Homo sapiens: one gene and its partners. The protein of the gene in region 3 purifies or fractionates together with the protein of the main gene of each other region. This does not show direct contact. Each region holds a gene or a part of one and is shown on either strand. Other genes may lie near its edges.

Evidence for each region.
Region 1: the proteins of LIN28B (region 3) and KRI1 purify together in Homo sapiens (co-immunoprecipitation; 2 studies listed by BioGRID and IntAct, with this or other methods). This does not show direct contact.
Region 2: the proteins of LIN28B (region 3) and TUT7 purify together in Homo sapiens (co-immunoprecipitation; 2 studies listed by BioGRID and IntAct, with this or other methods). This does not show direct contact.
Region 4: the proteins of LIN28B (region 3) and KRR1 purify together in Homo sapiens (affinity purification with mass spectrometry; 2 studies listed by BioGRID and IntAct, with this or other methods). This does not show direct contact.
Region 5: the proteins of LIN28B (region 3) and PTCD1 purify together in Homo sapiens (affinity purification with mass spectrometry; 2 studies listed by BioGRID and IntAct, with this or other methods). This does not show direct contact.
Region 6: the proteins of LIN28B (region 3) and PHAX purify together in Homo sapiens (affinity purification with mass spectrometry; 2 studies listed by BioGRID and IntAct, with this or other methods). This does not show direct contact.
Region 7: the proteins of LIN28B (region 3) and PURA purify together in Homo sapiens (affinity purification with mass spectrometry; 2 studies listed by BioGRID and IntAct, with this or other methods). This does not show direct contact.

The regions. Positions count from the first base shown.
Region 1 is NC_000019.10:10,559,332-10,563,684, forward strand, and holds part of KRI1 (protein KRI1 homolog), read right to left. Parts: intron 3,507-4,353; coding exon 3,398-3,506; intron 2,515-3,397; coding exon 2,460-2,514; intron 2,386-2,459; coding exon 2,336-2,385; intron 1,935-2,335; coding exon 1,838-1,934; intron 1,750-1,837; coding exon 1,672-1,749; intron 1,118-1,671; coding exon 981-1,117; intron 606-980; coding exon 479-605; intron 378-478; coding exon 282-377; intron 199-281; coding exon 28-198; intron 1-27.
Region 2 is NC_000009.12:86,315,852-86,320,204, forward strand, and holds part of TUT7 (terminal uridylyltransferase 7), read right to left. Parts: intron 3,820-4,353; coding exon 3,733-3,819; intron 3,208-3,732; coding exon 3,107-3,207; intron 1,426-3,106; coding exon 1,368-1,425; intron 1-1,367. UniProt on the Homo sapiens protein: Uridylyltransferase that mediates the terminal uridylation of mRNAs with short (less than 25 nucleotides) poly(A) tails, hence facilitating global mRNA decay. Essential for both oocyte maturation and fertility.
Region 3 is NC_000006.12:105,078,672-105,081,887, reverse strand, and holds part of LIN28B (protein lin-28 homolog B), read right to left. Parts: coding exon 3,105-3,216; 3' UTR 1-3,104. UniProt on the Homo sapiens protein: Suppressor of microRNA (miRNA) biogenesis, including that of let-7 and possibly of miR107, miR-143 and miR-200c.
Region 4 is NC_000012.12:75,493,979-75,498,331, forward strand, and holds part of KRR1 (KRR1 small subunit processome component homolog), read right to left. Parts: 3' UTR 1,685-4,353; coding exon of another isoform or gene 1,599-1,684; 3' UTR 1-1,598. Other genes in the region: GLIPR1 (glioma pathogenesis-related protein 1 precursor), read left to right, coding at 1,599-1,684. UniProt on the Homo sapiens protein: Part of the small subunit (SSU) processome, first precursor of the small eukaryotic ribosomal subunit.
Region 5 is NC_000007.14:99,428,179-99,432,531, forward strand, and holds part of PTCD1 (pentatricopeptide repeat-containing protein 1, mitochondrial), read right to left. Parts: intron 1,629-4,353; coding exon 1,410-1,628; intron 1,027-1,409; coding exon 925-1,026; intron 1-924. Other genes in the region: ATP5MF-PTCD1 (ATP5J2-PTCD1 fusion protein), read right to left, coding at 925-1,026, 1,410-1,628. UniProt on the Homo sapiens protein: Mitochondrial protein implicated in negative regulation of leucine tRNA levels, as well as negative regulation of mitochondria-encoded proteins and COX activity. Also affects the 3'-processing of mitochondrial tRNAs.
Region 6 is NC_000005.10:126,610,342-126,614,694, reverse strand, and holds part of PHAX (phosphorylated adapter RNA export protein), read right to left. Parts: intron 1-4,353. UniProt on the Homo sapiens protein: A phosphoprotein adapter involved in the XPO1-mediated U snRNA export from the nucleus.
Region 7 is NC_000005.10:140,120,426-140,124,778, reverse strand, and holds part of PURA (transcriptional activator protein Pur-alpha), read right to left. Parts: 3' UTR 1-4,353. UniProt on the Homo sapiens protein: This is a probable transcription activator that specifically binds the purine-rich single strand of the PUR element located upstream of the MYC gene. May play a role in the initiation of DNA replication and in recombination.

The DNA of each region.
Region 1 (4,353 bases), on a different chromosome or scaffold from region 3:
CATGTTGGGCCGGGATGAGGGCCGCACCTGCATGAGCTGGTCGTGCTGGGCAGGGTCGAAGTCGTCTTCAAGGTCCCCCTCCTCGAGGCCCAGCATCTCGTTGCCTGTTACTTTCCGCAGCTTCTCCAGCTTGGCCAGAATCTCCTTCCTCTTCAGGTTCTTCAGCTGCTTGAGCTCTTCCTGCTTCTTTGCTTTCTCCTGCAGGCCCAGGCAGAGAGGGGGAGGGCATGGGCTTTCCTCCAGGGCTGGGGGGTCCTCCCCAGCTCACCCCCCACACTCACCCTCTTCTTTCGCTCCCGAGTCTCTTCCCTCTTCTCCTTTCTGCGCTCATCCTTACGGCGCACGGAGGACGCGATGCTGCGTGGGTAGGTCTTGACCTAGGCGCAATCAGAAAAGCCCACAAGGGCCGCAGAGATGATGTGGGGTTCCCTGGGCCTGAACCCTGGGGGCTGAGTCCTCCCCAGCCCCAGCCACACACCGATGCTGAGTCCGGCTCCTCGAAACGGAAATTGTACTTCTGTTCAAAGTCCTCCTGTTTCTTCAGAAACAGCTCCCCTTCGTCTGAGGAGTCGTCCACAGCCAGCTGGACTGGGGGACCGTGGACCCTGAGGGGCAAGATGTGGTGATGCCAGGGGGCCAGCCAAGTGAGGTCGAGCCCCCCTTTCCTGCACGCCTGGGTACGAAGCGTATGAACTCATTTAATCCTCACAAGAACCCTACAAGGTGCACGCTGCTATTGTCCTCATTTTACAGATGGGGAAACTGAGGCATGAAAGTCTTGAAGCCGAACCAGGATTTGAGGCAGTGCCACCTGGCTCCAGAGCCTATACTCTGTGGCTCTGCCTTACAGAAGACTAACTCTGCCACCATCTGTGAAAAAAATACACACATGGTGCCCTCTGCCTCCTGGCCAGTGCCGCCTGGGAATACTTCATGAAGCGCACCCAAAATCTAGGTCCTGGGGAGATGCAGTGGCTCACCCCTCCTCTTCCTCCATTTCCTCTTCATCTTCCTCCTCCTCTTCCTCCTCCTCATAGCGTTTGTTGAGGATGTAATCCCGCAGGAACCGCTCCCCTTCATCCAACTCAGGGTCGTTCCAGTATTCCTTGAGATGCGTCTGGGGGTGACAGGAGACAGGACTCTGGTCAATGGAGGACAGGGAAGGAGGGCAGGCATGCTCACCACATGGACCTCACAGCCAGCCTCTGGAGTAGGTGACATTAGCCCCATTTTGGTTTCTTATTTTTATTTCGAGACAGGGTCTTACTCTGCCATCCAGGTGACAGTACAGTCGTGTGATCATAGCTCACTGCAGACCCAACCTCCCGGGCTCACAAGATCCTCCCACCTTAGCCTCCCAAGTATTTGAGACTACAGGTGCATGCCACCATGCCTGGCTAATTTTTTCATTTTTTTGTAGAGCCATTTTGCTATGTTGCCCAGGCCAGTCTCAAACTCCTGGCCTCAAGCAATCCTCCTGCCTTGACCACCCAAAGCACTGGGATTACAGGTGTGAACCACGGCACCCAGCCTATCCCCATTTAAAGAGATGTAGGAGCTGAGGCCCAGAGATGTACATATCCCATCTTCAGAGGGTTACTTTCTGTAAATAGGTTGGATGGACGCGGAACACGCGGTCTACTCCATCAGCGACCATGCGTGAGAACTCACCAGTTCCTTCAGGGAATCTGGGTTCCGAATCTCTTTCTGTCCCTTCAGCCACTCGATGTAGTCGGCCTCCTCCTGGGCCTGGGGGAAAGCTAGCACTGAGCATCCGCAGATGCCCAGCCACCCGCCACCCTGTCCCCCAGCAGTCCAGTCAGGCCCCAGTACCCACCTTCTCCTGCCTGGTTTTGGCACGTTTCTGCAGCAAACTGGAGCCGCCCTCCCCAGCGCCGTCCTCGTCCTCACTGTCCTCCACAAATGCCCGGAAGCTGCCCACGAGAGAAAACAAGCCTCAGGACAGGCAGGCTGGCCCCTGTCTGCTGCCCCAGTATTTATTTTATTTTGTAGAGCTGGGGTCTCACTATGTTGCCCAGGCTGATCTTGAACTCCTGGGCTCAAGTGATCCTCCCTCCTCTGCCCACCAAAGCCCTGAGATTACAGGCATGAGCCACCTCACCTGGCTGGCTGCCCCAAGATTAACCCCATTTACTAAGCCCTGAGCTCTCCTCTCAACAAGCTCAGAGCAGTGCTGTGATGTTATTAACCCCGTTTAACTGATGAGGAAACTGAAGCACATAGAAAGTGACAGAGCTCAATTTGAACCCGTGCCTATCCAACCCCCGAGCCTCAACTTTCCTCCATTGGGCCATTCCCGCCCACCCAGCCTCACCTTTCCTTGAGCTGTTTCTGTTCCTCCACATAACTTTGCGACGATGTCTCCTGCAGAGAGGGCCATAGGTCTCAGGCCAGCCCCAGGCCCCTCAGCCCCCCGACCCAGCCTTCACCCCACCCACCTGGAGTCTGTGATTGGAAGTCTCCCCGTCTGAGTTCTCCTCATCAACATATTTGCTGTAAAGGAAAAGTGGGGTCTTCAGAATATATCTTCCAGGGCCCGCCTGTCCCCATGCCCATGCGGAGCAGCTATTCCAAGCAACAGCTGGCGGGGGTCATCGGAGGGCTATGGAATCACTGAGACTCCTGCTCTCAGGGCTATCTGCGATTCTGGTGAGTTTCCAGCGTTTTTTTTTTTTTTTTCTTTTCCAATCATGGGTGACAGCATTTCTTTTTTGGAGCCAGGGTCTCGCTCTATCCCTCAGGCTGGAGGGCAGTGGCATGATCTCGGAAAACTGCAACCTCCACCTCCCAGATTCAAGCGATTCTCCTGCCTCAGCCTCCCCACGTAGCTGGGACTACAGGCGCCCACCACCACATCTGGCTAATTTTTGTATTTTTAGTAGAGACGGGGTTTCACCATGTTGGCCAGGGTGGTCTCAAACTCTTGACCTCAGGTGATCTGCCCGCCTCAGCCTCCCAAGGTGCTGGTATTACAGGCATGAGCCACCATGCCCGGCCTTTTTTCTTTTTGAGACAGGGTCTTATTCTGTTGCCCAGGCTGGAGTGCAGTGGCCTGATCATAGCTCACTGCAGCCTCCATCTCCTGGCTCAATCCTCCTGCCTCAGCCTCCTGAGTAGCTGGGACTACAGGTACACATCATCATGCCCAGCTAATTTTTAATTTTTTTGTAGAGGCGGGGTATGTTGCCCAGCCTGGTCTCAAACTTCTGTCCTCAAGCGATCCTATTGCCTCAGCCTACCAAAGTGCTGGGATTATGGGCATGAGCCACCATGCCCGGCCCAGGCTGCCAGCTTTTTTCCCTCTCCTGCCCCTAAGACCCCCATAGACCTGACAGGGCTGGGAACCAGGGGGTGGGGATGTAGGCCTTCTCCATACCCTGCCTTCTCCAAGATAACCTTCCTCTCGTAGTCCTTCAGGTACATGGGCCGCACTTTCTTCTGCTTCTCCAAGGCTTCTGGGTCCTCCTCACTGTCTGATGACGATGCTGTTAACCCACCAAAGACACCTGCCATCACCCACAACCCCCTTCTTTGCCGTGGCAGAGAATCCCACAGGGCAGGGCCAGGGTTAGACAGAGGATTCAAATCCCAAATCCACCAATTCCCAGCTGTCCAAGAGTATTGTGCTTGTCACCATCTGGTGGGGTTGGGGTCATTCAGTCAGTAATTCCTGCTTTGATTATTATTATTGTTGTTATTATTTATTTACTTATTTTTTTTTGAGGTGGAGTCTCATTCTGTTGCCCAGGCTGGAGTGCAATGGCATGATCTCGGCTCACTGCAACCTCTGCCTCCCGGGTTCAAGCTGTTCTCATGTCTCAGCCTCCCAAGCAGCTGGGATTACAGGTGCCCACCACCGCGCCCGGCTAATTTTTATATTTTTAGTAGAGATGGGGTTTCTCCATGTTGGTCAGGTTGGTCTCGAACTCCTGACCTCAGGTGATTTGCCTGCATCGGCCTCCCAAAGTGCTGAGATTACAGGCGTGAGCCACCGCACCCGGCCATTATTATTATTTTTTTGAGACAGAGTCTCACTCCGTTGCCCAGTGCATGGCGTGACTTGGCTTACTGCAACCTCCGCCTCCCAGGTTCAAGCGATTCCCCTGCCTCAGCCTCCTGAGTAGCTGGGATTACGGGTGTGCACCACCACGCCCAGCTAATTTTTGTTATTTTTAGTAGAGATGGGGTTTCACCATGTTGGCCAGGCTGGTCTCGAACTCCTGACCTCAAGTGATCCTCCCGCCTCAACCTCCCAAAGTGCTAGGATTACAGGCATGAGCCACCATGCCCAGCCTGATTAATTATTATAATTAATTTTTTTGAGAGTTGGAG
Region 2 (4,353 bases), on a different chromosome or scaffold from region 3:
TTGGGAATAAACCAAAATTAAGATTTTTTTTCCTCCTGTTATTTAAACAACATGGTATGTACTTTATTAACTCCTGGGGAAAAAATTTCAAAGAAAAGTGGCACCCAAGGTGTATATATGTGTGTGTCTAGGTGTGTGTGCACGTTCATGCTGTGACTTAAAGTCTGTTCCTAACCGAAATGTACAAAAACTTTTCATGGACAGACCATGGATTTTAAGTTCCTGAGGATAGGGGCCATATATTGTTCACTTTCATTTTCAGCTCTTAGCACAGAAGTTTGCTGAACTACATTTTAAAAGAAGATTTTTCACTGTTAATGGTATCCATAGCTGCCATGACAACAAAAGGATACGTTAACAGCATTTCAATTCTGTGCATGGTTTACAAAATCTATACATTTTATAGCTGTAAATACTCTAGAATAATTATCCAGTCCAGTTGCCTCAATTTATCAATGAAAAAAAGAGATCAGGCCAAGCGTAGTGGCTCACACCTGTAATCCCAGTGCTTTGGGAGGCCAAGGCACTTGAGCCCAGGAGTTCAGAGACTAGCCTGGACAACCTAGCAAGATCCCATTTCTTAAAAAAAGAGATCGCTTCAAGTGAAGGACTTGTTCAGGGTCATATACAGCTTGTTGAGCAGAACAGCTGCAAATTCAACCCACAAGCCCAGTCCGGGGTGCTTTCCTTGACACTTCACACAATTAGCAACTCCTACACTTTGACTTATACAACGCCAACAAAGGAAAAGGATTTATAGCCTTTCTTGCCTGTCTGGCGTAGGCTTTGTCTTGAAATAAAACTGAGCTAGGCAACAATATGCATATAAATTATCACCAATTCCTCAGTCTTTCATACTTACGCATACAAGATTTTAAAAAGACATTAATATTGCAATTATTCTATGAATGAGCCACTATACTGCTTCATGGCATTAATAAACTCTAAATACAATTGGCCTTTCATGTCTGTGGGTCCTGCATCCCCATATCCAATCAAACACAAACCAAAAATATTTAAGAGAAAAAAGCAACTAATAAAAAACTAACGATACAACAATAAAAAAATACAAATAAAAAATACAGTATAACAACTATTTACATAGTATTTACACTGTATTAGGTATTATAAGTAACCTAGAGATGACTAAAACTATATGGAAGGATGCATATAGGTTATATGTAAATACTATGCCATTTTATATAAGGAACTTGAGCATCTAAGGATTTTTTTTATCTGCTGGGGAAGGGAGGGTTGAGGGGTGATGGGTGGGCCTGGAACAAATACCCCATGGATACCAAGGGAAGACTATAGAAAACACTAATTAAAAAGTCAGAAATATTTTTAGAAAAAGTTTACAGAGGTACCTGAATGTTTTCTGAGGACTCTTGCTAATTCTTCAATAGTTCTGACACAGTCCAATCCCTACAACAAAGAAGGCATAAAGAACTTAACCAAAACTGGAAGACAGGTTCTGAAACTGGCTATAGTTTCCATTACCTTCAGAAATAATGTAATTAATTTCAAGTCAGTCTATATCTATTTTTTTCCTTTCTAGTTGGGTATTAGAGTCAGTATTCACAGGAAATATCCTGACGGTACAAAAACCACTAAATACCCTACTTCCTAATTGTTTTTGGGTGTGCAACAAAGGCTAAAATCAGTCAGGAAGCTTATGGACCTAGGGCTTCCAAAAAAGTCTCTGAACCATGGTTGAGGACCTTCATTTCTTCCCCTCCACATAATATCACTCGGATGTACCCCATGTCCCAGAATAAATGAGAGGAGGCTTCTGTGCCCCAGCTCATTCATTCTAAGCAGACCTTCTATAGTTTAAGAGTTGATGAATTGCTGTGGAGAGTGATTAAGCTCAAATTATTTCCCTATAGGACTAGCCAGAATTATAATGCATATAACTAAAGTCATACAGCAAATATAAATAGTATTTGATAAATCATTCTTAAAAACATTTGGGCTGACTCAACATACGCCTTTTTGATGGTTATAAAAATCCCAGAACATACGTGGAATGTTACTTTAGAAATGCCCTCAAAACTAGTTTATAAGCCATGTAAAAAAATAAATAAATAAATAAACCTTGAGGATGTATGATAGGGTCATTCCATATGTTGAGCCAATCTTGCTTATATACTTTATTCAAATTCAGGCTAGATCACTTTTGACTATTTTCCCAAATCAGATACATCCTCAAAATAGAAAGACTTGAAACTAAGAAAAGGTACAAAAAGGTCTTCAGCAACAGCAGCATCATTCATTTGGATATTTAGCATTTGGACTGCTGTTAAGGATTTAAAAGAATAGGGACTCAGCACTTCCTAGACTTTATACCTTTATATAGTGTTTTATATTTTATAAATGCCTTCAGATATCCCAGGGGCTGGCAAGTTTGTTTTGCTTTGCACGCCATATGGTCTCTTACAACTACTAAACTCTGTACTTAAGAGTGAAGGCAGCCATAGACATTACATATGTGAATGGGTGTGATTCTGTCCCAATAAAACTTTATTTACAAAAACAGGCAGTGGGGGGCTGAATTGCCCAAGGGCCATCGTTTGCTAACTCCTGACCCACATGATCCATGATAATGTGTACAAAAATCAGCGGAGGCAGGAGGAACAGATATTATACTTTATCGATTATTTACCAAAGACCACATGTTTAGGTACTGATGAAACAAGTTTGTCTCAAATCCAGGCCTCTGGACTCTAAGGTTAGTACTCTTATGATTTACCACACTGCCTGTCTGGTAACAAACTTTACAGGTAACCTTATGTGAGTGTGTGATCCAAGTCAGCATAGTAGCCAAGCCAATGGGACACTGAAGAGGCTGGTTTGGCTATGTAGAATTCCCAGGCAACACTTTCCAATCCACTTTTTGCTACAGAGTGAAAGTATAACCTTTCTGCTCCTCACATTCCTCACAACCTTTCCAAGCCTCTTAATGTATTTGGCCAGAGACTGTGCCAAACAGCACACTCTATATGGTATGCCCTGATAAATTTGGAAAATACCAAGCTGTAATGCCAGTCTAGATTGGTTAAATCACACTGCCACAGCAAATGGAAGTTTTATGTGGTCACTGTACCTCAGCAGTTTCAAGTCCATTAATTGTCATACAGACGTCAAGGTCACTCTGTTTGAACCCAAATCCATTTTTGGAGGAGCCAAACAGGCTCAATTTAGTTCCTGTTAGGGATATATGAAAAGTAATAACTAATTACCTGAGTACATTTAATTTTTGATCAAAATGGCCCTCTCATGAATCAAAAACACCCAGTTGTTTAATTATCCTATATTAATCTCATACTTATGTTCTCTGATTAACTGGTCATTTATGCTAAAGTCTTTTTCTCTCAAAGCTTCCTTTACATACAAGCTGTATATGGCAAGAAAGATTACCAGGTGCTCCTTTATTCTTAAATGCAAAGACATTTCAAGGAAAATGTTAGATCACCTCAACACATTTAATAATGTAAGCTTAACTTTGACTCTAAACATAGTATTAAATGAAATTCACTTATGGCACTTGCTAGAATAAACCCTACACTGTTTCTGTTGGTAAATGAGGATTTGGCAGACCAAGGACCATCCTGGGTATATTGCAAAACAATGGAAATCCTGATTCTCAAAATCAGTGTGCTTGTAACACATGAACTGATTTGGAAAAAAGGTTACACTACTTTTCTTAAAAATAAAAAATAAATCATTTACCTGGAAAGTCCTGTCTTATGAAACTTTCTAGGTTTTGCCGAATATGTTCACGAGCCTGATCTTCTATAATTGTTGGAGAAAAATCCTCTGTTTAAAAATAAATAGACATATTGACAAAATAAGCCGGTTGACACTCTTAGAAAAAGCTGAAAAAAATTTATTTTTTAGAAAATAAAACTTACAAGCTTAAATTTAAAAATTCCTAAATCATTGTGTCTTCTCAGTAGATAGCATTAACAAGGTAAAGTTTGTTTTTTATTTATTTTTGAGATAAGGTCTGGTTCTGTCGGCCAGGCTGCAGTGCAGTAGTGTGATCTTAGCTTACTGCAACCTCTGCCTCCCAGGCTCAAGCCATCTTCCCACCTCAGCCTCCCGAGTAGCTGGGACTATAGGCATGTACCACCATGCCTGGCTAATTTTTGTAACAGTAATGTAAAATTTAAGATGTCCTTTTTTAAAGAATCTAAGAAGTGCTCTTGAAACGGAAAGTAATTTAAACATGGGATCTCCACCTGGGTTTCCTGAAAGACACCAGGGTTACAGAAAGGGCCTTCAGAAATCACCACCCCGCTAAAGTGTGAATTTAAAAGTTTGTGAGCATTTGCATGTATTTTTTTCCCT
Region 3 (3,216 bases):
CAGTGCTAGTTAGTTATGTGCCTGGGGCTATAATGCTGCAATACGCTTGGCTTCAGGGCAGCACAGACAGTAAATGAAGGACATTGGCGTCTTTTAAACTCTTTGCCTAGCATGAATACCTGCATACACCAACCCCTCTCCCTGCTACCCCTTCCAACCTCCACCTCTGGGCAAAGTGGTGCTTCTAAGACTGCTTCCGTGTTCTGTTTTGCTTAAGTTGAACAGTGCCCATAATTCTTTAAACTAAATACATGATTATTTTAAGGAAATGTTTGGAGACTTTGCTAACTAAAACGAGATGCTTCATTATTCACAAGTGTTTGTCAGAAACATGCAGTTGTGAATTGCTATTTATAATACAGATAAAAAGGTTCTGTACCAGAGAATTATCAGCCACCTGTAAGGCTGGAACAGCATACATACAGGTGTGCTATGTATCAACTATGAGGTAGCCTTTTGCTGTAAACAGAGTAATATTTTACCTATGTAAATGAACAATGTGTTCACATCAGTGATATTCACATATGCACAGAGTTGAGGGAATCTGCTTTAGAGGAGTTTTCACATGAAATAAAAATAGGATAACTGATATCTGATATTCAAAAATTTTGATCTGTGTCAAACTCAGAGGTAGTTACTATCATCAGTACATAATACTTATATAAAGGTATAAGTTATTTGGTTTGTTTTGAGTAAGCAGGACTGTAGACTAGTCTGTAAAGAAACAACAAAAATATTACATGGTATGTTCCCTGAGCAAAGTTCTTTGTCCTGAGTATGTTATGTAATAGTGATAATATTCTCATATAAAAAATAAACCCCAACTTTCAACCATAAGATAGGTTTGGTATGTGCTCTTAGTTTAGTCTGGTAAGATGATGAAAAGGATTTCAAATTGCACCCATAAAGACCATAGTTCTCAAGTGTTTCTATTTTTTTTTACCATGATTTTAGCTCTGAATTTCTTTTTGTAAACAGGAAGTGTCCAATTTTGAAGTCCATAATTTCCTATTTCCATAAGGTGAAGGAACTTTGGTTTGAATTTTCAAAGTGACTTATCTATCATGTTTTGCATTTTTACTGTTAACCTGCTTATTATACCTGCTAAAAATTGAGCAACGCTTATCATGTTTTGCATTTTACTGTTAACTTGCTTATTATGCCTGCTAAAAATTAAGCAATGCCACTTTGATTTGTCTACATAATTTAAATAAGTTTGAAATCCTCACATAAGGCAAGGAAGTACTTCTCTACAGCTATATCACATTCAATATCGTCAAAGGTAAGCTTTGCATCACAGCACACCGATATTTCAGTGTATACCACGCAGATTCTCACAATCACTGTTGTGAAATTCAAGCTGAGTTGTAAAGGACTGGCAACCCAACCTGAGGCATTTTCGTCTTATGGTGGTTTGCTGAAACAGCAGCAACTATACACGTCTCCCATGACAGGACAGGCGGGAGAGGAAGTAGAAACTGTTCAGCAGAATATGTCTCATTTGAGTCATGCTATTTTTATTTAATTATCTGAGCTTACACCAACAGGCCCATACATTATAATTATAATGCTTAATCTTATTCCCAATATTAAGCACTATAATTAACTGGTACCTTCTTGCAGATGTTTCAGAAATTTGCCCATAACATCTAGAGCCAGGATGACCCCAAAATAATTTTTTTTTCCATGACCGAAACCTAACAGGACCAATACTATGGCCCCTAGCCAGTTTATCACTCTAACGAGAACCAACCTGAGAAGATTCTCCCTGGCACTGAATGTTCATCCTGTATCCACCATATAGGTTACTTCAGAATAAGCATTGAAGGTCACTTCCATAAGATCAAAGTTACTGTATAAAATACTTCTAGCTCTCTGGTGGGAGAGGTTTGGTACCTCTGCCCCAGGCTTGTCACTCTTGTTAACTGCCACTAAATGCTGCACTTTTTCGTATCATTTGCAGGTCATATATATTGGGCAACTGTGAACATCCACTTAATTTTAATTCTCAACCCCAGTATTTAATTCATTTCTTTGCTGCTTGTTTGTTTTAGAAACAAATTAGATAACTCTCCAGGAGGAATAAAAACCACCACCAAAAATATATGCCAAACAATTGGAGTTCTCTAAGGTCTTCAGTAGTAAATAAGGAGGGCTCCCTGCTCTAAGCAATGGGTAGAAGATTGAGTTAGCCAAGGGAAGCTGCTGTTGCCACACAATCCCTTACAACCCTCACAACATGGAAAAGGTTACAAGAAGCTGATATTAAAATACTACTGAAAACAAGCCACTAAGATGATCCTCCCCTTCATTTCTCTTAATAGGCATCTAATTTTACAATTAAACACAGAATTTAAAACAGTGAAATATCGGCCCAAATTACACATTCATTGTCTTTTCTGGAGTTATGTTATCCCAGAATCAAAAAAGCTTATGGCAGTCAGAGGCATATGAAGTTAAGGTACTGCCTTCAAAAAAGGGGGAAAAAAATTACTACTCCAGAGATTTCAAGAAAAAGAGGCAATCCCAAATTCGGGAGAACTGGATGTCTTAAAAACCTTTAGTACCCCATAATTGGCAGCTCTGAGATCTGAAGTATCCTTTGGTTCACACAAAAGGTAACAGTCGTGTTTTTAGTTTTATATAATATAAAAGAAGTGGTATTTCAAGAAAACTCCAGTGGGTTAAATTTAAAACTATCTATAATGCTTCACATGGGTTTTCAATTCTTGGAAATATCCAATTATATGAGAGAGGGTGTGTGCTTTGATCTATACACAAATATATAAAGACAAAGCCTCTTTATATATGTGTCTACATTCCTATATAAAAATCCTCATGTACACACACAGACTCAGGCTCTCTCCCTCTCACACATGCACATATTGACAGACATAGTATCTTATTCTCTGAATTAACATAAAACATGACACCCTGCTCAAATGTAATTTGCTTAGAGTGATTTGTCTGTTTAAAAAATTCACAGTTCCCCAATAGTAGTTAAAATCCCAGGTCAGCTACTGCTTGTGAAATACTGTTCCCCTATACTTGCATGAGGTAGACTTTGCAACCGGGTAAAGGAAAGAACATATGAAGAAGACCTGTTATGTCTTTTTCCTTTTTTGAACTGAAGGCCCCTTTTTGCTTTGCTCTTCTGGTGCTATAGATGACTTCGTGGAGGAAGCTTCTTGAGGTGACCTGCCTGACCGTTCTGAG
Region 4 (4,353 bases), on a different chromosome or scaffold from region 3:
ACTGTGCTTATTAACAATGAAAGACATTCCAATGATTAATGTCTATTTTGGACATCTTTTGAAATTGCTATCAGAATTTCTACTATATTACCTTTTTTCCATGGTGTAGAGTAAGCAGAGGGCTAATTAAATTTCTGAAGCAACTTAAAATTTGGAGCAAAATGAGATAAGAACATAGATTTGGGGTTGGAAATAAGGTATCGTTATAAAGTTGTGTGTCTAAGGTGAGAGTTCTCAACTTTGGAGGTAATTGTAGAGTGCTGGGGAGAGGAGGACCATAAACTTTGATTAGAAAATAGTTTTATTTTTATTTTCACTAACCTCTATTAAAAATAACATTTCCTTTCATTATGAATGAAGACAACACTCCACCATCATATTAGCAATAAACGTGACTCTGACTTAGCAGTATCATCTTTGTAAATATCAGATATTTTCATACCACATTCCACTTGCTGCAGAGAACTCAAAATATAGTTTGTGTTCATCACTGCATTGAAACTAATAGCCCCCGGTAGATCTTAATAGAGAAGCACATATTACTTTATCACAAATCTTGTTTTAAACATTTTGATAACTATTTCAATTTAATTGGTTTCCTTTATAATCCTATGTATTTTATGCATTTAACAACAAACTATGTTGAGAAAGAGCCCATAGGCCTCACCAGACTGCCAAAGGGTACGATTACACAAAAAAGTTTAGAACTTTTTCCAAAAGCAGAGTTCCAAAAAAAATTAGTGCAATGGCAGGTTCATTGAGATAAATGTGCCCCCTCTCCCCATTACTACTATGAGGATATTTATGGGGATATAAAATGCTTGGATATTATTTCACTTTCTAGTCTGTGACCTTGGTCAATTACTTATACTCTGTGACTCAGCCTCTAGCTATATAATGGGTATAAATAGACAACAGTAACTTCCTCATAGGGTTTTTGTGAAGATTATTTCATTCAAGGTTGTTTAGAACAAAGACAAGCACATGGTAGTGCTCACTAATTAGCAGCTATTATTCATATCACATCTTGTATGTGAAAACAATTTGTACTTTAGAAATTCCCCCATACCATTATTTATTATTTTTTTGGAAGGCACCAGCCAAATGGCTCCTATCCAGTGAAAATTATGGAGGGCTGACCAACTGAGAATATTGAATGTGGGTCACCATAGCTTTTCTAAGATGGACAGTTTTTTAAATGGCAGTAATCATATAGGCCAGAGGGTAGGTAAAGAGAGGGAGCACAGCCCTGGAGTTAAATCCAGGTTTCCTCTGACTCTGAAGTGTATAAATTGTGATTAAAGGTATCTCTTACATCTTTTGTCTCATCTGTAAAACAAGAATAACTTCCTCTCAGAGCTGTCACAATTAAATGGGATGCAGATTAAAACAGGTGCATAGACACAGGTACATAGAATGAACTATGCAAATATTAGCAGCCTTCCATTTCTGCCTTCCTGTCTTCACTTCTATTACCAACTCTCTGGACCTTTGTACTTCACTCCACTATTCTTCTGGATTTAGTTAAGGATTCATAGTAAATTGCAATTTTAAAAAACCGAAAAACTTCTAATGGACATCCTTCTTCTGCTTTACAGAGGGAATTACCCAACTTGGCCATATAAGAGAGGAGCCACCTGCAGTGCCTGCCCCAATAATGACAAGTGTTTGGACAATCTCTGTGGTGAGTAAAAGGAACAATACACCAATAGAATAACATAATAGTAACATGTAACTTTCTACAGAATTAACAATGAAACCATGTTTTATCTTAACGGCTATCTTCAAGGAAACTGGCATCAAGTAGCAATTAAACCAATGGCTTACTGTTCTAGGAATACATTTAAGAGAAATTTAAATGTGAAAATCACGTTCTTTTTATTTAGTTCTAATTGGTCAAACAACAACAACAAAAAAAACTGTCAGAAACTGTAGACTAAGATTCCTAAGATTTGCTTATTTCAGCAAGATCAAAAATAAGTATAACAGGTCATCCAAACAAACAGAATTCTGTTTTCGTTTTTTTTTTTGTTTTTTTTTTTTGAGACAGAGTCTTGCTCTGTCACCCATGCTAGAGTGCAGTGGTGTGATCTCAGCTCACTGCAACCTCCATCTCACGGGTTCAGGCGATCCTCCTGCCTCAGCCTCCCAAGTAGCTGAGATTACCATGCCACCATGCCCAGCCTGGCCAACATGGCAAAAACCCCCTCTACTAAAAATACAAAAACTAGCTGGGTGTGGTGGTGGACGCCCGTAACCCCAGCTACTCAGGAGGCTGAGGCAGGACAATCACTTGAGCCCAGGAGGTGGAGGTTGCAGTGAGCAGAGATTGTACCACTGCACTCCAGCCTGGGTGACACAGTGAGGGTCTATCTCCAAAAAATGAAAATAAAATAAAGCTGCAACATGGCACTTTTTATTAGCCAGACAGCATTTAATGAAGAAGTGTAGAAGCTGCAAGCAGTTAAATTTCCAAGGATGTTTTACTAAACATCCAAGCAAAATTCTGCTTTGTGATTTTGAAATATTAGTAAGTGACCAAGAGTTTATTTCTTGTTCTTGTTCTAGACACAAACCCTTCCATCCCAGTATGTTTTTTTACCATGGTGTGAAGGGGAAACTTCAATTAAGCTGTGCAAAGCCTGTGGTACTTTCGTGTCCATATTTGTAACAAACTGAACTCAGAGCAGCCGGGCTAGAGTAGGGTGCTTAGAATAGAGGAAGGACAGAGTCGGCCAAGTTCCACTGCACGAAATTTAGTTTGGAAAAAAGTGTTCCATTGCTCATGTTTTATAAGGTCCCTTGCAGGCCTAAAATTATAAAATTCTATATATTAAACTGCTTGCTCTCCTCCTTCCCATTTAATGTTGAATACTTATCTTTACATACAGTCGTACTTTTGCAAAGTTTTCTGAGCCATTTTTCTCCCAGTCCAATCATTCTTTATTTCACTTATATCACTCTTGTGAAGAAAAGTAACATGTAGCCACAATGCAGATAATATCAAGGTATCAATGTATTCACTGAATTCTTCCTTTCACTCACTCTTCACTTCAGAACGTATATATTTCTTCCTTCCAAATTAACCAGTATACATAAGGGCTAAAACTATGGATTTCAGAACCAGTATGCCAAGTTTTGGTGCAATTTCCAGTTTGACCACTGTGACTTTGGGCAAGTTTCTGCTTCTATTTTTTTCAACGAAACAACCCAGTGAAAAAAATGTTTCCCTTTAAAAATCTAGGCAATTAGTAACACTACCACCACCACAATGACAAAAATACTTCTGGTTTTAGCTTTTGATCTTTGGTGATCTAACTTGAGATGCTCTTTAATCTTGGGGAATAACATTTAGAAGATTAAAGCTGTAGTCCAATAATGAAAACCCTTGGACTCTTGAGAAAACACATGCTAACTTGTATTTATAAGATGTGAAACTCATTACCCATTTACTTCAGATAAGTGCTCAACATCTTACAGATTGATCTTGTCACTAATTTCCTATTCTCAGAGCTAGATTTATGTAATTTGTTTTCATGTAAGTTTAGGCTTACTTGAAAGTATTCTACTCTTCGCACTAATACTGAATAAGTAAGATTTGTGACTAAAAAACTTAAGAATCACCATTTGACCTTTTATAAGGTCTGATGAAGGTAAAGGTTAGAGGATAAAAGCTTTTATTTAACAGATTCCTTCTCAGACAAATTATGGCAAGCACTGGAGCATAAATTCCTTCGTGGTATTCCTTCGTGGTCTCCTAGATACTGCTGGTAGTTCAATAAATACCCTTGGAGGCCAAATCAGGACTGTTTTACAAAATGTGCTGGGCATATTAGTGGTACATAAGATGATTTTAGCTAGTTCACAGATGTACATTTGTTTCAATAGTTGAATATTGAACATTTAAAAATATATATAAAAAAAAATAACTAGAACATCACACTCTTGATTTCATCGACATAACTGCCAAGAAAAGTGAGGGTAGCATATTTACAGTAATTCACCACAAAGCCCACTCACAGGTATGAAGACCAGGGATGCTCACCAGTACCCAGAGGACCAGATGATTGATGGGTTCTACCACGAGCATCTAATAGCGACTGCTGCAGAACTGGTGTGGAAAAGGTTTCTATTTTATAAAAGAAAGTATCCAGAAGGCTAAAGGCAGTTGTGGAATTTATTTCTTCCCAGTGCTCTGATTGTCAAAATTTGAATAAAGCTCAGTGAAAGGAGGACAGTAATTAATGACTTGATAGCCAAACATCGTAATGATGATTTAGTGATATACTAGACTGGATGAAAGAGAGGTCACTGTCTTTTCACTATGGATTCATCATAAACAGTATCATTCTT
Region 5 (4,353 bases), on a different chromosome or scaffold from region 3:
TCACGAGGTAGGAGAGCGAGACCATCCAGGCTAACATGGTGAAACTCTGTCTCTACTAAAAATACAAAAACAAAATTAGCTGGGCATGGTGGTGGGCGCCTATAGTCCCAGCTACTCAGGAGGCTGAGACGGGAGAATGGTGTGAACCCAGGAGGTGGAGCTTGCAGTGAGCCGAGATCATGCCACTGTACTCCAGCCTGGGCGACAGAGCAAGACTCCATCTCAAAAAAAAAAAAAAAAAATTAAAAACATTAAAAAGAAAAAGAAAAAAAAAGCTCTCCAGCGGGGAGCTGTGGTTCACACCTGTAATCCCAGCACTTTGGGAGGCCCAGGCGGGCAGATCACATGAGGCCAGGAGTTCAAGACCAGCCTGGTCAACATGGTGAAACCCCGTCTCTACTAAAAATACAAAATTAGCTGGGCGTGGTGGCGGGCGCCTGTAATCTCAACTACTCGGGAGGCTGAGGCAGGAGTATCGCGTGAACCTGGGAGGCGGAGGTTGCAGTGAGCCAAGATCGCTCACTCCAGCCTGGGCAAGAGTGAGACTCCATCTCAAAATAAATGAATGAATGAATGAATGAATGACTCCTGGGTTGCACCTGCAGAAGTGCTAATGGGGGTGTGGGAGGGTTGAACAAGTCCCCAGGTGAGTGTGTGGCAGGCTTTCAAGGAAGGTGAGTTTAGAGGGGCTAAGCCGACTGCAAAGCAGGGTGGGAGGGGCGGGGGCCACCCTCATTCCATCTCCAAGGGCCTCCTCTCCCTGCCATCTGTAGAATGGAGGCTACAGTGGCTGCTGGGTTTTCAGAAAAGAGCACAGATATAAAAATACTCAGCACAGGGCCATCGTGGGTGCTCACAGGATCACCATTTTGCACCTCTGGCACCGGGGAAGCAGGGCAGGAAGGTGGGGTGGGAGGGACATACCTGGAGGGCGTACCGGAAGCCTGTCTTCTTGTCTTGGATGCAGCCCATGAGCAGGAAACTGAAGGTCTCCTCTGTGACCACGTGCCCTTTGTGGATGATTTCCTGGGGGAGGGAACAAAGACGTCCCACTGAGAACCTGCAGCAGGCTGGGCATGGTAGCTCATGTCTGTAATCCTGGCACATTGGGAGGCCAAGGCAGGATGATCACTTGAGGCCAGGAGTTTTGTGACCAGCCTGGGCAACATAGCAAGACCCTGTCTCTAGGAAGCCTTCCCTCGAGTGCACAAAGCAGGACACAGCACACGGTGGCATACACAATCTCCAGTAAGGTCTCATCAGATCCATCTGTGAACCCCAGGGCCCAATACCGGCTGTCTCATCCTCCCTAAGCCTTCCTACATGAGGAGAGACAGACACCACAGCCCTGCCCCTGACACGTGGGACCAGCCCCATGAAGGGGAGCAGGACGGCAGGGGAAGCCCCACCTTGAACACATCGAGGCACATCCTAAGGTCTGCGCACTTGGCAGCCATCTTCAGCAGCGCGTGGTATGTTTTCAAGTTGAGCTCGAAGTTTTTGGCCTGCAGCTGCTGCCGGAGCTTCAGGGCGCTCTGTAGAGCTGAGTCCTTCCAGGGGGACTCGGCACAGACGTTGAACAGGGCCGTGTAGGTGGCGTCCGAGGGCTCCAGGTCCCGCTTTTTCATCTGTGGAGATGGAAGAAGCTCAGTGGTGGCCCGGGATCAGCTGGACGCACAGGTGAGCAGCTGCCCCAGAGGAGGCTGAGGCTGGAGAGGACCCCGTCACTGCATCCACCAGGCCAGGCTCTAAGGCAGAGCCATGGACACATCAGAGCCCAGCTCTCCAAACTCAGACACATTGAAGGGACTCTGAAAACTGAGCCCACACACCCAGATGTACCAAACAGGAGCTACCCTGCCCTGGGCACTTGTCAGCCCACTCCAGGCCTGGGGTCCTGGCAGCAAGGTCTTCCTGATGTCCCCACCTTCAGGCCACCCCGTCAAGGGGAAAGGGCCTGTAGTGCTTACTACCTGAGGGCTCCCGGGCAAGTTAGCACTTCCTCGCGAAAATGGGGATGACACCATCACCTTGAAACCAGGCATGCCTGTGGCAAGTGGGAGGATGCACTGCAGTGCTCTAGGGGTGGCCCCGAACCAGTGGCACAATGCACATTCTCAGGGCCACCTGATCTGGTAAGTCACAAGCCCCGGAGCTGAGTGACACTCAGCTTACTGAGCCTCCAGGGGACTAAGGCATGTGCTCAGGGTTGACAATCCGTGGTGAAGCCTAGCACTCGCTATTGGCCAGAGAAGGGCCATCTGGACAAAGGCAGGCGATAGGCAGCTCAGCGGCAGAAAGAACCCTGCTAGAGTCAGGCCATCTGGGGCTCAAATCCCAGCCCCGGTGCATTCAAGTGGGGTGGCCTTGGACATGTCCCTTCATCTCTCTGTGCCTCAGTTTCCTTATCTGAAAAGCAAAGAGGGCAGTCCCTACTTTGAGGATGATGTAAGCTCTGCGTGTATTGCTGCACTCCACAGAGGTGCACTGACAACTCACTACCTGCCCAGCAGCAGCCCTGGGGTTAGCAGAGCGGGCACAGCCTATCCTTACTGAGCTTACACTCAAGAAGGGAGACACACTGCAGGTGAGTCACCAAAAACAGTAACAAGGCTGGGTGCCGTGGCTCACGCCTATAATCCCAGCACTTTGGAAGGCTGAGGTGGGCAGATCACCTGAGGTCAGGAGTTCGAGACCAGCCTGGCCAACATGGCGAAACCCCGTCTTCTACAAAAAACACAAAAAAATTAGCCAGGCATGGTGGTGGGCGCCTTTAATCCCAGCTACTCGGGAGGCTGAGGCAGGAGAATTGCTTGAACCTGGGAGGTGGAGGTTGCATTGAGCCGAGGTCGCACCACTGCACTCCAGCCAGGGTGACAGAGCCAAAACTCCCGTCTCAAAAAAATAAATAAATAAAATAAAATAAATAAAAACAATAAAAATATTAGTTTTTTTTCTTTTTTTTTGAGATGGAGTCTTACTCTGTCGCCAGGCTAGAGTGCAGTGGCGTGATCTCGGCTCACTACGACCTCCCTCCACTTCCTGGGTTCAAGTGATTCCCTTGCCTCAGCCTCCTGAGTAGCTGGGACTACAGGTACGTGCCACCACGCCCAGCTAAATTTTGTATTTTTAGTAGAGACAGGGTTTCACCATGTTGGCCAGGATGGTCTCAATCTCTTGACCTCGTGATCCGCCCACTTTGGGCTCCCAAAATGGTGGGATTACAGGTGTGAGCCACCGCACCTGGCCAAAAATAATAGTTTTTTAAAATAGATGTAATGGGCTGGGTGCGGTGGCTCACGCCTGTAATTCTAGCACTTTGGGAGGCCAAGGCGGGTGGACCACTTGAGGTCAAGAGACCAGCCTGGCCAACATGGTGAAATGCTGTCTCTACTAAAAATACAAACAAAATGAGCCAGGCATGGTGGCATGTGCGCCTGTAGTCCCAGCTACTCGGGAGGCTGAGGTATGAGAACTGCTCGAGCCCAGGAGGCGGAGGTTCCAGTGAGCCGAGGTCGCACCACTGCACTCCAGCCTGGGCGACAGAGCGAGACTCTGTCTCCAAAAAAAAAGGACTGTAGGAAAAAGAAAGAGAGATCAGACTGTTACTGTGTCTATGTAGAAAGAAGTAGACACAAGAAACTCCATTTTGTTCTGTACTAAGAGAAATTCTTCTGCCTTGAGATGCTGTTAAACTGTAACCCTAGCCCCAACCCTGTGCTTGCAGAGACATGAGCTGTGTTGACTCAAGGTTTAATGGATTTAGGGCTGTGCAGGGTGTGCTTTGTTAAAAAAGTGCTTGAAGGCAGTAGGCTTGATAAAAGTCATCGCCATTCTCCAATCTCGAGTACCCAGGGACACAATACACTGCGGAAGGCCGCAGGGACCTCTGCCCAGGAAAGCCAGGTATTGTCCAAGGTTTCTCCCCATGTGATAGCCTGAGATATGGCCTCGTGGGAAGGGAAAGACCTGACTGTCTCCCAGCCTGTCCCCCAGCCCGACGCCCATAAAGGGTCTGTGCTGAGGAGGGTTAGTGAAAGAGGAAGGCCTCTTTGCAGTTGAGATAAGAGGAAGGCATCTGTCTCCTGCTCGTCCCTGGGAATGGAATGTCTTGGGTGTAAAACCAGATTGTGTGTTCTATTTACTGAGATAGGCGAAAACCGCCTCAGGGCTGGAGGTGGGACCTGCTGGAGACAATACTGCTCTTTGATGCACGAGATGTTGTGTAGGTGCACATCAAAGCACAGCACCCTTCCTTAAACTTATTTATGACACAGAGACCTTTGCTCACATATTTTCCTGCTGACCCTCTCCCCATTACCCTATCGTCCTGCCACATCCCCCTCTCCGAGA
Region 6 (4,353 bases), on a different chromosome or scaffold from region 3:
TTTTACTGATTTTTTATTGTGATAATAAAGACATGACAAAAAAATTTTGTCATCTTCACAATTTTTAAGTGTACAGTTCAGTAGTAAAGTATATTTACACGGTTATAAAACAGATCTCCAAAACTGTTTCATCTTGCAAATCTGAAACTCTGTACACATAAATTTCCCTTAGCCTCCTCCCTTTAGCCCTTGATACTCTTTCTTGTTTTACCATGTGAACTGGTTGCCTATTCAAATAACTGAATTTTTAAAAATAAGGAAATAGGTACATATACACACTTGTGGCCGGGTGCGGTGACTCACGGGTTGGGTGTTGGGTATTATACCCAACACTTTGGGAGGCCGAGACGGGTGGATCACTTGAGGTCAGGAGTTTGAGACCAGCCTGGCCAACATGGTGAAACCCTGTTTCTAATAAAAATACAAAATTAGCTGGACATGGTGGGATATGCCTGTAATCCCAGTTACTCAGAAGGCTGAGGGCAGGAGAATTGTTTGAATCTGGGAGGCAGAGGTTGCAGTGAGCTGAGATGGCAACACTGTACTCCACCCTGGGTGACAGAGCAAGACTGTCTCAAATATATGTTAATTGCAGAAAAAGTAGCAAAAACATGCGGTTAAAAGAAAAAATAGGCGGGGTACAATGGCTCACACCTGTAATCCTAGAGGCAGATGGATTGCTTGAGTGCCCAGGAGTTTGAGACCAGCCTGGGCAACATGGTGAAACCCTGTCTCTACAAAAAATACAAAAATTAGCTGGGCATTGTGGCTTAAGCCTATAGTCCCAGCTACTTGGGAGACTGAAGTGGAAGGACTGCTTGAGCCAGGGAGGTCGAGGCTGCAGTGACCTGCGATTGTGCCACTGTACTCCAGCCTGGATGACAGAGTGAGACCCTGTATCAAAAAGGAAAAAAAAAAAGAAAGAAAGAAAAAGAAAAGAAAAAAACCACCCATGATCCTACTAACCATAGGTAATCACTGTAACATTTTGACACATATAATCTTTTTACTTTTTTCTGACACAGTCTCGCTCTTCACCCAGGCTGAAGTGAGGTGGTGTGATCATGCCTCACTGCAGCTCGACCTTCTGGGCTCAAGGGATCCTCCCACCTCCTTAGCCTCCCAAGTAGCTGGGACTACAAGCATGTGCCACAACATACAGCTAATTTTTGTATTTTTTTGGTAGAGATAAGGTTTCACCATGTCACCCAGGCTGGTCTCAGGATTACACACGTGTGAGCCACCACACCTGGACATCTTTTTACTTTTTTATATGCCACATATATTTGTAACTCCAACCCCAAATGGGATTCTGTCATATAAATTGGCTTGTTTATTTATTTTTGAGACAGAGTCATGTTCTTGTTGCCCAGGATGGAGTGCAGTGGCACAATCTCTGCTCACTGCAACCTCCACCTCCCAGGTTCAAGCAATTCTCCTGCCTCAGCCTCCCGAGCACCTGTGATTACAGGCACATGCCACCACACCCGGCTAATTTTTGTATTTTTAGCAGAGACGGGGTTTCACCATGTTGGACAGGCTGGTCTCGAACGCCTGACCTCAGGTGATATGCCCGTCTCAGCCTCCCAAAATGCTGGGATTACAGGCATGAGGCACTGCGCCTGGCCAATTGGTTTCTAATCTGTCTTTTCATTAAACAATCCATTATACATACCCTTCCATGTTCATGTTAAATAGACTTTTGAGACTTTGAAGCCAATGTGAATTTTTGGATATTGCTCTTCAAACTGGCTAAAAACCTTGGAGTCATCTTTGACTCTTCCTTTTCTTACATCCTCCATCTAATCCACTAGGAAATTCTGTTGGCCGTATCTTCCACATATACCCAGAATCTGACCACTTTTCCTTCACCCCACTGCTACCATGCTGGTCAGACCCATTGGAAAGGCTTTTCCTGCATCTAATCTTATTCCCCAGTTCAGTCTATTCTCAAAACAGCAGCGGAAAGGAAATGCATTTCTTTTTCTTTTTTGAGACCGAGTTTCGCTCTTGTTGCCCAGGCTGGAGTCCAATGGCGCAATCCCGGCTCATGGCAACCTCCACCTCCCGGGTTCAAACGATTCTCCTGCCTCAGCCTCCTGAGTAGCTGGGATTACAGGCATACACCACCATACCTGGCTAATTTTTGTGTATTTTTAATAGAGATGGGGTTTCTCCACATTAGTCAGGCTGGTCTCAACTCCTGACCTCAGGTGATCCGCCCACCTCGGTCTCCCAAAGTGGTGGGATTACAGGTGTGAGCCACCACGCCCGGCCTAGGAAATGCATTTCTTATCTGTTCAAAACCCTCTATGGGCCATTTCATTTAAAGTAAAAGGAAAATTCCTTAAGATGGCAAACAAGTTCCCACTAGACCTGGCCCAATTATCTCTCTGACCTTATATCCTACTCACTCTCTCATGCACTCTGCTCCTGCCACATTGGCCCCTTGTTGAGACAGGAACTAGGTAGAGATTAGGGTGGAGAGAGCAGTCTTGCCAAGTACAGGGTAAGAGCCTATCTTTAAAATTTTGTCCATTATGGATTTTTTGCATTAATTTTGATTTTTGAACTGGTACATTCAAATATTATTTATTTTGATTATTGAGTTTTTAAGGCACTGTCAAATTTTGAACCTAAAGCAAGTAAACTGCTCACTTCATGCTAGTTCTGGCCTTGCTGGGCACCCTTCACTTCTACAATAGCTGTTACTTCTGCTTGGTCTATTCTTCCTGCAGTATTCATTGCTTCACCTCAAGTCTTTGTTCAAATTGCACCTTCTTAATAACATCTACCCAGACCACTCTAGTTTAACTGCAACGTCCTCCTCTCTGCTACTATTCCCTATAGCTCCATCTGATTTCTTTCTTTTCCCATAGGATGTATCACTTTTTTTTTTTTTTCGAGACAGGGTCTCGCTCTGTCACCCAAGCTGGAGCGCAGTGGCACGATTACAGTTCACTGCAGCCTTGACCTCCCAGGTTCAAGTGATCCTCCCACCTCAGCCTCCTAGGTAGTTGGGACTAAACACATGTGCCACCAAGCCTGGCTAATATATGTATACATATTTTTTGTAGAACAGGATTTCACCATGTTGCCCAGGCTGGTCTCGAACTCCTGTACTCAAGCAATCTACCCTCCTTGGCCCCCCAAAGTGCTGGGATTACAGGTGCATCTGGTCAATGTATCACTTTTTAACATACTTGAAGTTATATTTATTGTTTATAGACTGTCTTCCTTTCCCCCAACCACAACATAAGCTCCCTCCTCTAGAACAGTGCCTGGCACGTAGAAAGCACTGAATTCAAGGAAATAATGTATCCAAAGAAAGTAAATTTGGAGGCCGGGCGTGGTGCCTCACGCCTGTAATCCCAGCACTTTGGGAGGCCGAGGCCGGCAGATCACCTGAGGTCAGGAGTTTGAGACCAGCCTGCTCAACATGGAGAAACCCTGTCTCTATTAAAAATACAAAATTAGCCGGGGTGGTGGCGCATGCCTGTAATCCCAGCTACTTGGGAGGCTGAGGCAGGAGAATCGCTTGAACCCGGGAGGCAGAGGTTGTGGTGAGCCAAGATTGCGCCATTGGACTCCAGCCTGGGCAACAAGAGCAAAACTACATCTCAAAACAAACAAACAAACAAACAAACGAAAAGAAAAAAAACAAAAAAAAAAAGAAAGTAAATTTGGGGGCTGGACATAGTGGCTCACACCTGTAATCCCAGTACTTTGGGAGACCGAGGTGGGCAGATTCCTTGAGCTCACAAGTTCAAAACCAGCCTGGGCAACATGGTAAAACTCCATCTCTACTAAAAACACAAAAAATTAGCCAAGCGCGGTGGCACGCACCTGCAATCCCAGCTACTCAGAAGGCTGAGGTGGGGGATGGCTTGAGCCTGGGAGGTGGAGGATACAGTGAGCTGAGATCGCGCCACTGTACTCCAGCCTGGGCAAGAGAGCCAGACTGTGTCTCAAAAAATAAAATAAAATAAGAAAGTAAATTTGAACTTGCATCTTCCCAATATTCAGTAAATCTGCATTAGCTCACTGGAATATAAAGTTTTATCACTACAGTACTAAAATATTGATGAAATCTGTAACTCTGTGTTCAACTGAATGAAAATTGAAGTACTTTAACAATGACACAAATAGGGATGGCAGTGCATTCATGATTATTATAATTTCTTTTGTTGCTAACTTCTGTTTTGACTTCTGTAATTTATGTTCACAGGCTGTTTCCTTAGCCAATGCTATTAATCCTAACTGGGTTTTTTTTCTCCCCATGTCCAAAGCACAATATTGATCTACTCCCTTGTGATGTTATTACAGTATTCAGACTTATCAGTAACAAAAAAC
Region 7 (4,353 bases), on a different chromosome or scaffold from region 3:
TCATAGATAGAATGCTGAATATCATCCACATTTAAAGATTTGACAACATAAAAGTTAGATAACTCTTAATGATGTGAATCTTTAACTTATGATTTTGAGTAAAGGATTATCTAGAATCAAATATACACTTATTAATCTTCATTTCCCAAAATTGGTCCATATTTAGACAACTACCTGGCACAATTTCACTAGATAAACCTAAAATCTGAACAATGGAAGTTAAACTTCTACCCAAAGTAAAAACAAAGCCATAAGATTCCACAATTGAATTGGCCACAAACATTCACACTATGTTATAAAGGACTTTCTCATTTCAAATACATCACTGAATGTTCAACAGAATTTGCAAACATAAGATCCAGAATGACTAGCAAAACATGCTAAGAGCATGTCAAAAAGTAAAACACCACCTCTCCCCCCCCAATCTGGAAACACACTCAGGCATTCCAAAAATAAACCAGATCTGAAAAGAGGCCTCTCACTTGGTTTTAAGTATGAGGTGTGTACAAAGCTATGGGAAAGGGAATATAAAATGAAATAACCAAATAACTTACAAAAAATAATTTTAGCCAAAAACACATCTCTCTGTTCCATTGATAAAACTATCAATTTTTAAATTTTTTTGCAATTCTGAACACTGTGTTGCATAATATCACCAAGACAAAAAATATGTTCACAGGTACACTTTTTGTTATTTTCTTTCTAGAGCACATCTTTGAGGTCATAAGACCGCATCTGGTTAAAATAAAGTCTCTTGCCCTTGCTTCCCTTCCCCCTCAAAGTGATTCAACCCTGAATTCCAAAAAGGAATATTCAATATAACAACTTGAAAACCAGTTGTAACACTTAGACCATAAGGAAACTATATGAACATTATGGAAAACTACATGAAAGAGGGAGCTGCCACTTGCCACCCACTTCACTTCCAGCTTTTTAAGCATGTACCCAGCTAGACTCCTATCTCACTGACTTCAGTGAAACAAACTAACACACCAAATCTAGGCCATCTCAGGCTGGAAGTTAAAACTCGAAGACATCATTTCATATACACATACATATATATTCCCTATCCTAAGCTTTAACTTTGTCTATTTAAACAGTTTAATAAAGCTCACATTTACAAAGGATTTTATTGGCAAATAAAGGCCCATATTAAAAATTTTATCAGAACAAATTTTTGTTTTATACAGCTAACATTAAGAAATATTTTCTTGGCCTTATAAAATATTTTTAATTGCATATAATTTTTGCTTTGGGTGGAATATTGAAAACACAATTCTGCAAGAAATTAGAAAAGACTAGAAACAAAAGTGAAAGTGACTAGCCTTAACTTTCAAAAAATCAAGTGCAAAGATAAATAGTGCAAATAATGAAAACTAGAAATTTTACAGGCAACTTTAGTCTTTCCTGCTTTTGCACTTTTACACATTGACAACTTTATAAACCCTAACAACTATATGCAGCATGGAAATGGGCTATCATTTATCTCCACTGACTAGACTTAAGCCTTTCAAGGACTTGTCTCACAGTCATTTAAATCACAAGTTCTTGACACAGGTTTGGGAATTCACTTCTTTTTAAACAAATTTCTAAGGGAGGGGCTATTTAAGAAGGCTTTGCATTGACTTAAATGAGTTATAGTATATAACTATTATAATTTAAAATCTGACACAATAAAATGTGAAAATTATACTAAAGTGCCAACTCTACAAAATAAGCTATAGTAAAAATAATCCTGCTATTGTTAATGAACCTGACATTCGTAAAAAAGAAAAATTACCTTCAAAGTACAAAATCAGAACCACTTTTTTGCTATTTTTAAAAGAGATTTTTATCACTAATATATAGAGATGTGAGTAAAATGAAACTTCAAAGTAATCTGTCCAAATCACCAGGAATAAATCCATACTAAATTTGACAACAAAGAGTTAATCCAAACATACTTGAATTATGTAACTTAAAAACAAACATTACAGTAATTATTTATCTTAAATAATTTAAAACACTACTGGAATAATGGGAACAGAAATCTAAACACTATCAGCTTACCCTACAAAGGATATAAGAACCTCCAAAATGTACTAACTTATTTTATTAACATTTGCCACCACTGAACTCTTGGGAATACTACAATTTTAAAGTAAGAGAGAAAGTAGGGAAACAGAAACATGAGTTTGGGGGGTATGTTGTCTAATTTTAGAAATACAGTATTATTGAGGGCCTCATAAGGTCTACAAGGTTAAATGGTTGCTACGGATGCAAATGTAAAAGAAATAAAAAAGACACCTAAAATTGCAAGTTAGTGTTTTTACCTGGTTTATTGTCTTCTAAGAAATTTGTGTGGGCCAAAGTCTCAAAATTCTATAAAAGCAAGGAATAATATGTGTCTTTGTGGAGTACAAAATCAAATAATTTGATCTAAGGACCATTTGAAAAGTAAAGGTAAACTACATTGTAACAAGAGCCCAAGAAAATAGATAGTATGTGTGATAAATATTTCTGATAGTTTAAAAAGAATAATGGTGAAAAGCTTGAAATTTTCTTTTCCTCAAAATAATAACTCCCCAGCATCCACTTGCCTTGACCAGAAAAGCTGTCATTCCACAATTGTGCTAATTTGTCCCAGAAAAGCAGACATCCTATACATGAAAACAGACTTGTATAATGCATGATCATTATCATAACTCTAGCTATAGTAACTAACAGCTTTCTCATAATCAATGAGGGACCCATTTTCTCTGGCTTTATTGAAACTTCCTTAGTGAAGATCAACTTCATTTCCTTAGCAAATAACTCTCATTCGGACTCCATCATAGTACCTTTTCCTACCTCTAGTAAAAATTCCTCTCACTTTATTTCCAAACCATTCTCTATATACCTCTCAAACCCCCATCCACAAACACATTAAACAGCTCTCCTCGTCCTACTCTCCAATTTCCAAACCAGTAAGTCTCAGTTCCCAGTAACTTACCTAAAATACACATACTTCTTACTCTCTTCAGTTCACAAGTTTCTTAACATTAATTTAGATACCTTCAAACTGCCAGCTTAAGACTATGGGGAAAATAGCAATCAGAAAAAAACTGCCCAGTTACCTCATAATACTGAAATTGTTCTGGATCATCAGTTAGCTATGTTCTAAGGCAGGAGTCAGAAATTTCTTTACTTCTCTCTGAAGAAGTAAGCTTGAGTGCCACTGGTAGGCCTACAGCAAGAGTAAAAGTGGAGAGAGAAACAAAGAAAAAGGATAGGAGAGAGAAGATGCCAGATGTACATGGTAAGGAGGTAGGTCAAGTACCACCACCAACTACCTGCATTTAAAATTGCCAATCCACTCCAGCTGAATGGGAGTTTGACCCAAACTCAACATGTGTCTGATAAGTCATTAGCTGATGGCTATCATTGTTTGAGCTAGTCAAGATGAATAGGTAATTCACCTGTCCCATAACTTTAACTGCCACTTCACGATAAGGACATATTTTCTTAAATCCTCCTAGGATCCTTCTGTGTTAATAATCTACCTTAGACCAAAACACACACTAACAAGAGTATTTCCATGTTTTTCACAATTCTAAAATAGAAGGACTTGGTCCTTGAACTTGGAGGCCTCTTGAATTATTAAAGTGGAACCAAAATCAAGAAAATTAAACTCTTTAGCTTAAACATTTTTCCATCTAATGCTACAAAATAAGCTAATTGCTAATAATTATCAAAACAATGTGTGTATTTATGAAAACATGAAAATCCTGTGATTCCAAAATGAGTGAAATACTTCTGATGTGTAAGAAGCAACTATATTTTACATAGAGGATCACCACCATGTTTCTGCCTATCAACAGGACAATCTTCCACAAAAGCAAAGGACATCAGGAAGGAAAAACACAAAACAAAACAAATACCAAACGTGGGGACAAAATAAAAATGAATGAGTAGTTATGACATTCTTGTTAAGAAAAATGTTAACAAGTGACCTTTGCCACACTCAGCTTTCCTAAAGACATAAATTGCCTGGACCATTCAACATCAAAACTTGGTAGTTAGCTTAGCAGATTCATTGGCTTGAAACCAATCATTATTTCTTATTTCATCTGGTTGTTCTTTTATCATGAAATTCTACCTGACTCATGCTAATTCTGGCTTATTTTCACTTAGCCTGTAATGAAATTTCTGTTCAAAAAGGACGTGTCAAATGGCCTATACCTTAAATTTAGGTTTTCAGGATCAAATAACTTCTTAAATATTAATATTAAAATCAGCTTTTCTTAATATATCACAAAATCTGCAAAGAAGATTCTATAATAATTCGTGAATAGCAGTGATCACTTTAGTTTTATAGCATACTTATGAATGGCC